2 linked regions of the Homo sapiens genome follow. The gene in region 1 interacts genetically with each later gene. Each region holds a gene or a part of one and is shown on either strand. Other genes may lie near its edges.

Region 1 (3,500 bases):
ATTATACTTTCCCGCCAATTTTCATTTCTATTCCATGCTTATAAAAACTACTCTACTTTTTTTTTTCTTATGGTTTATATTGTGAATTTCTTTTCTTTTAAGACGGAGTCTCACTCCATCGCCCACTAGAAATGCAATTTCAGCTCACTACAACCTCCGCCTCTCAGGTTCAAGCAATTCTCATGCCTCAGCCTCCCAAGTAGCTGAGACTACAGGCACCCGCCACCACGCTCAGCTAATTTTTGGGTTTTTAGTAGAGATGGGGTTTCACCATGTTGGCCAGGCTGGTCTTGAACTCCTGACCTCCAGTGATCCGCCCACCTTGGCCTCCCAAAGTGCTGGGATTACAGGCGTGAGCCACTGCGCCCCGCCTGTATCTTAAATTTCAAATAAGATATATTCAGAATATAATCTAAATTTTAAAACTAATTGCTTTATATTCCATTTTAGCGTTATTAGTTTTTAATTATAGTAGCTTATATTTTTTGTTGAAAAAAAAAAGGAAAGAAAAGAAATGAAATAGTAGGCTATTAAGGGAAAAGTAAAATAAGAGTCCCCATACTTCACTTGAGCCCAGGAGTTTGAGGCTGAGATGAGTTATGATCACATCACTGCACTCCAGCCTGGGCAACAAAGTATCTCTTTAAAAAAAAAAAAAAAAGAGTCCTTGTGTTGACCCTCTAATTTCATAATGAACAAAACAAACAAACAAAAAAAACCCCTGCCCTTCTGCCCTTGTGGAGCTTAGATTCCAGTAAGGAAAAACAGGTAATTTACCAAATAATCACACAGACAACGGTGAAACCACAGTGTGATTAGTACTACCAAGGCTATGAGAGCCTGGCTAAGTGATTCAGTCATGTAAGTCAGGGGAGGCTTCCCTGAAGAAGTGATGCTTTTAAGTGAGAAAAGGCAAGAAGGAATGAAGTAGTCGGAGAGGAGGGCAAACCAATTCAAGCAGAGGAAAGGGCATGTACAAAACCTCCTGTCCTTCATTCATCCTATCCCCACTTTTCAGCCGCTATATGCACTTGGCAATCCAGATTTATCTATTTTTAAATGCCTCTTATATCCCTGAATCTCCATTCCCAACACCAGCAACTCAATTCCGATACTTGTACTTTTGTACATGGATTAATATAAAGAGCCTCTAATTGGCTTCCATGATATTATTTCTATTTTGCTACTAGAATAAAGTTTCTTAAAACTTTAAGAATAAATTGCATGCTCTTGCTTTAAAATTCTCAAACTGGGCCAGGCATGATGGCTCACACCTGTAATCCCAGCACTTTGGGAGGCTGAGGTGGGTGGGCTCCTTGAGCCCAGCAGTTCAAGACCAGCCTGAGCAACACTCCATCTCTATAAAAAAATACAAAAATTAGCTGGGCATGGTGGCATGTGCCTGTAGTCCCAGCTACTCAGAGGAGGCTGAGGTGGGAGGATCACTTGAGCCTGGGAGACTAAGGCTGCAGTAACTCAAGATGGTGCCACTGCACTCCAGCCTGGGAGATAGAGTGCAGCCTTGTCTCAAAACACACACAAACACACACACACACACGCACACACACTAAAATAAAATTCTCAAACGGATTAGAGGAAATCCCTGGGCAAGGGTCTGAAGTTGAATAGAACATACTGATCTTCAGGTGACCCAGCTTCATCTAATCATTTCTATTACAGAGATATTTCTCTTTTCTTATGAATCAAATCCTAATAAAACAGATAACGTTTCTTTATCACCATCCAATAAATAGAACACAGACAAAAGAACAAATAAATCTTCAAAGACATCTGTTTACTAGCCTATCCCCGCTTAACTCTTCCAGGTTCCTTTAAGCCACCTGGCCTTATTTCCCACCACCCAGCATTATAAACCCTCTGTTCTAGTGAGGTGTGACTTTCCCAGAAACACAGATTGTGCGCTTCTGTTTCCATGCAGTGTTTTCTCATTGCCAAACATGTTCTCCCCCTCCATCTTTTCGACCTATCGTAATTTCATCTTCATTCTTGGAACTCCCTCCCTTTTTTCTGGCATGCCTACTACAGCTGTCCCTCTTTCTAGCCTACACTACGTAATTTAGTCTTCATTACCTATTTGGGCAATCTTTGATTCTGTCCTGGCCCTTGTCCCCAAAATGCCTAAATTTTAATGAGGTCGACATATGCTATACTCAGATTCAGCATGTTAAGAATATCGTAACTCTCAATAAATGCTTGTTGGTGAAAGACTCACTATACTTTCTGGGTAATCAAAAGATGATTATCTACTAAGTGAGTTTATAATAGAGTTGTAATGAAGTACTTGACTATATACTATATAATGCTTCAAATATATTCAAATGCAGGAAATATGATCCCAATTCTGCAAGAAAAAAAGTTGCTTATATATTCATGTGCAGAAAATGTCTAGGTTATTCAAGAAGTTAACGTAGAGGGTGTGTGGGAGAATGGAGAAGAAAGAAGACACACATTTACTTTTCACATTATATCCATCTATTCCATTTCAATTTTTTAAATGTCAAACATAAATTAGTTCCATAATCATAAACTAATAACATTAACTAATAATGTTGAAGTAAAATATAAACCAAATGTTTTTTTAATTCTATTCATTCTGAATATACCTTATTTGGAATTCAAGTATACATTATAAAAAAAATTTAAGGCCAGATGTGATGCCTCACACCTGTAATCCTAGCACTTTGGGAGGCTGAGGTTGGTGGATCACTGGAGCCCAGGAGTTCAAGACCAGCTTGGGCAACACAGCAAAACCCTGTCTCTACAAAAAATACAAAAGTTAGCCAGACGTGGTGGCAGGTGCCTGTAGTTCCAGCTACTTAGGGGGCTAAGGTGGGAGTCCAAAAGGTTGAGGCTACAGTGAGCTATGATTGCACCAATGCACTCTAGCCTGGGCAACAGAGCGAGACCCCGTCTCAAAAAAGACAGAAAAAAAAAGTATATATATACTATATGTGTACATATATATATATATACACACACACACAGAGAATTCTTAAGACTTTATAAACATGGAGTGAAAACAAAAATTGGAGTAAGCAAAGTGTAAACTTGAATTGCTAGAAGTTTAGAAACATATATATATATATATTTTTTGACACAGATCTTGCTCTGTCACCAGGCTGGAGTGCAGTGGCACGATCTCAGCTCACTGCAACCTCCATCTCCCGAGTTCAAGTGATTCTCCTGCCTCAGCCTCCCAAGTAGCTGGGACTACAGGCACGTGCCACCACACCCAGCAGATTTTTTTGTATTTTTAGTAGAGACGGGGTTTCACCATGTTGGCCAGGCTGGTCTCGATCTCTTGACCTTGTGATCTGCCTGCCTCGGCCTCCCAAAGTGCTGAGATTACAGGCGTGAGCCACTGTGCCCGGCCCTGGAGATATATTTTTGAATAGACCTTACCAAAGTTCATTTGTTACTATGAAACCATTAAGACATAAAATTCACTAAGCTCATTTTATCTAGTTTAACATAAGCTA
Region 2 (3,500 bases), on another chromosome or scaffold:
TTGTAAAGTTCTGATACCAAGGGTTTTCCTCTTTATTTTACCCTGGAGAGTCACCATAACTGCCAGCTTGTAGAACTTAAAAGTTGTCCCAGGAAAACATAGACCTGGATAAACTTTTACAGCACCGTTAAGACCAGCAAACCTTTTAACGGTTTTTACTATTTTAGGTAAATGAAACCGATTCCAGCCCTTCTGTTGTGGGCATAATGCATTTCCTTTCTCTGTTTTTCACCATATCAAATGACAGCAGATATTAATTTCACCTGTCATATTTAAGAAAAGCCCCAAAATTGTAAAATTGGGGACACAGATTCACACTTCCCTGTACTGAATAAGGCACTGACTTCCACAGTTTTCTCCTCTCTCCTCCCATCTTAGTGTTTCCAAAGTAATTTTTTTTTTTTTAAGACAAGGTCTTGCTCTGTTGCACACATTGGAGTGCAGTGGCGTGATTATGGTTCACTCCAATCTCTGCCTCCCAGGCTCAAGTGATCCTCTCACCTCAGCCTCCCGAACAGCTGGTACTACAGGCATGTGTCACCAAGCCTGGCTAATTTTTGCTTTTTTTTTTTTTTTTAATTGATGGGGTTTCAACCATGTTGCCTATGTTGAGTTTTCTCAAACTTCTGGGCTCAAGTGATCCACTTGCCTCAGCCTCCCAGTGTTGTGATTACAGGCATGAGCCACTATGCCTGGCCCCAAAGCAATATTAATGGAAATAAAAATAACAGTTTATTTTCATAAATTAAAACACCCTCCTTAAATCTTGCCTTCCCCTCCCCCCAAATTACTAAATCACTATTTATATGTAGAAAAAGGTAGACTTATACGCCTTTAGGTCACAGTATATGGGCCAAACTTAAGGCCAGTTTTTTATTATGAATCTGGAGTGAAGGTTTGATTTCACCAGAGTTACTCTGCCATCTTCACGGCTATTCTTTGCTTTGCATTCCAGACTATAACCCAGATGTGGATACAATCATATGAACATCTATTCTATCATCTTTCCTTCCCACATCCTTCATAATCACTCTTTTTCTGGGGAAATTGGAATTGTTCAGTGGGCTCTATAGAGATGAAGTGGGCAGAACGAATGATTCCATTGAATTTCAATCAAAAGTTACATGAGAAGAAATACGATTTGATATTCTGACTTCACATGTACCTTCTTTACGTCTAACACTTAGAATGGGGTCAATAACTCCTCTACATATGAAGACTAAGACACAAGGAAAGATGTGGGGTGGGAAATATGAAAATAAAAATAAAAAGAAGCTGGACATGGTGATACATGCCTTTAGACCCAGCTATTATACTTGGGAGGCTGAGGTAGGAGGATCACTTGAGCCCAGGGTGGTTGAGGCTGCAGTGAGCCACTACACTTCAGCCTGGGTGACAGAGTGAGACCCTATCTCAAAAATAACAACAACAAAAGCCAAAAGAGAGCTGTGATAAGAGGAGAAAGAAGCAAAGGAAGAGGAGAACTGGAGACAGTAATAGAGCACTACTAAGCAACTTTCTTAGCTGTTCTAAGTAAACAAACAAAAAAAAATAGTCTCCATGTGACCTTAGGATAGCTCTAGAACCTCTGTCCTTTGGTGGGACTATAAAAATTGAACTACATATTGTAAAATTCACAATATATTGTAAAGATACATAACCCTAACTACTACATATCACAGTTTGAGGGAAAAAATCAGATTCTTACCCAATAACTGGATGTTTGAAGCCAAGCTTCTTGGTGGCTTCTTCTATTTCTTTTTCTAGCCAAGGCTGTGGGCGGATCAAGTATTTGACAAACTGAGACACCCACCACACTGCAGGGTCACCATGCACTCGTACAAGTCGATCTGCGAGGTCTTCTGGTACAGCCAAGGGTAAATATGGAGGACGGGGATGAAGACTGTCTACAATGGGAAGCTCGACCACTTGAACATTTTTGTCCTTCACTTCACCTGACAATATTGAAACATATAATCATTACCACATGGTATTCCTTATACATCCACCATTCAACAAGAACTTATTCTGAGTGCTTTCATCCTCACAGCAACTCTAAAGAAGTATAATCTTCACTTTACAAAGGAAGTTAAATAACTTGCTCGAAATACCAGAGCAAAAGTGACGGAGGTGAATTTCACATGCAGGTTAGTCTATCTCTCAAGTCTCTGGTCTTTTCTAAAAGTTTCTATCATAACATGCTATCATACCAACACCTCATGGTATGCAGAACTCAAAGTATCTAATCAAAGAATGACAGTAGACACAGCCAGCTAGCAAAGTTCTATTTTTTGTTGTTGTTTTGGAATTAGAAAATAAAGTGTTCTCGAAACTTCTAGCTTTTCATTACAGCAAAATTGCTCTTGCATTACTTTCATGACAGAACACAATGACTCTGGAAACACCTGAAGATTATAATTATAAGCCAATCATCTACATCTTTTAAAGAAAAAAATTAGATAATTCTAAAATCTTTTTTTTTTTTAATCTATTGGAGGGAGATGAAGCAAGATGGCTGAATAGAAGCCTCAACCAATCGCTGCCCCCACCACAGGAACACCAAATTTAACAACTATCTACACAAAAAAGCACCTTCACAAGAACCAAAAATCAGGTAAGTGATCACAGTACCTGATTTTAACTTCATATTGCTGAAAGAGACACTGAAGAGAGTAGGAAAGACAGTTTTCGATTGTCTACTACCCCTTCCACCCCCATGCAGTGGCCGTGTGGTGCAAAGAATCTGTGTGCTTGGGGGAGGGGGAGCACAGTGATTGTGGGACTTTGCACTGGAACTCAGTGTTACCATGTCACAGCAGAAAGCAACACCAGGCCAACTGGCAAGCAACACCCGGGCCATTAGCAAAGAACTCAGCCAATGCCCATGGAGGGAGAACTTAGATGTGCCCTAGCCAGAGGGGAAATGTCCATCCCAGCGGTTGGAGCCTGAGTTTCAACAAGCCGCACCACTATAGGCTGAAGTGTCCTGGGGCCCTAAATGAACTTGAAAGGCAGTCTAGGCCACAAGAACTGTAATTTCTAGGCAAGTTTTAGTGCTGTGCTGGGTTCGAGAGTCATTGGACCTAGGGGGCACGTAACCTAGTGAGCCACCAGCTGAGGTGGCTAAGGCAGTGCTTATGCCACCCTTTCCCTAATCTAAGGCAGTGCAGTTCACAGCTCCAAAAGAGACTCCTTCCTTCCACTTGAGCAGTAGAGAGGGAAGAGTAAAGAGGACTTTATCTTGCAACTTGGATAACAGCTCAGCCACAGTGGAACAGAGCACCAAGTGGGCTCTTGGGGTTCCTGATTCCAGACCTTGGCTCTTGTATGGCACTCCTGGACCTGCCTGGGCCAGAAGGGAGCCCAGTGCCCTGAAGGGCAAGTCCCAGGCCTGGCAACATTCACCACAAGCTGACTGAAGAGCCCTTGGGCCTTAAGTGAACATGAACCGTAGCCTGGCAATAATCCCTGTGGGCTTGTAGTGGTGGTGGCCATAGGGA

What was found. A genetic interaction does not mean that the proteins touch.
Region 2: changes in TRAPPC11 (region 1) and FUT8 together harm fitness less than expected from each alone (positive genetic interaction), as found in Homo sapiens cells (one large-scale study listed by BioGRID).

The regions. Positions count from the first base shown.
Region 1 is NC_000004.12:183,686,793-183,690,292, reverse strand, and holds part of TRAPPC11 (trafficking protein particle complex subunit 11), read right to left. Parts: intron 1-3,500. UniProt on the Homo sapiens protein: Involved in endoplasmic reticulum to Golgi apparatus trafficking at a very early stage.
Region 2 is NC_000014.9:65,720,230-65,723,729, reverse strand, and holds part of FUT8 (alpha-(1,6)-fucosyltransferase), read right to left. Parts: intron 1,956-3,500; coding exon 1,709-1,955; intron 1-1,708. UniProt on the Homo sapiens protein: Catalyzes the addition of fucose in alpha 1-6 linkage to the first GlcNAc residue, next to the peptide chains in N-glycans.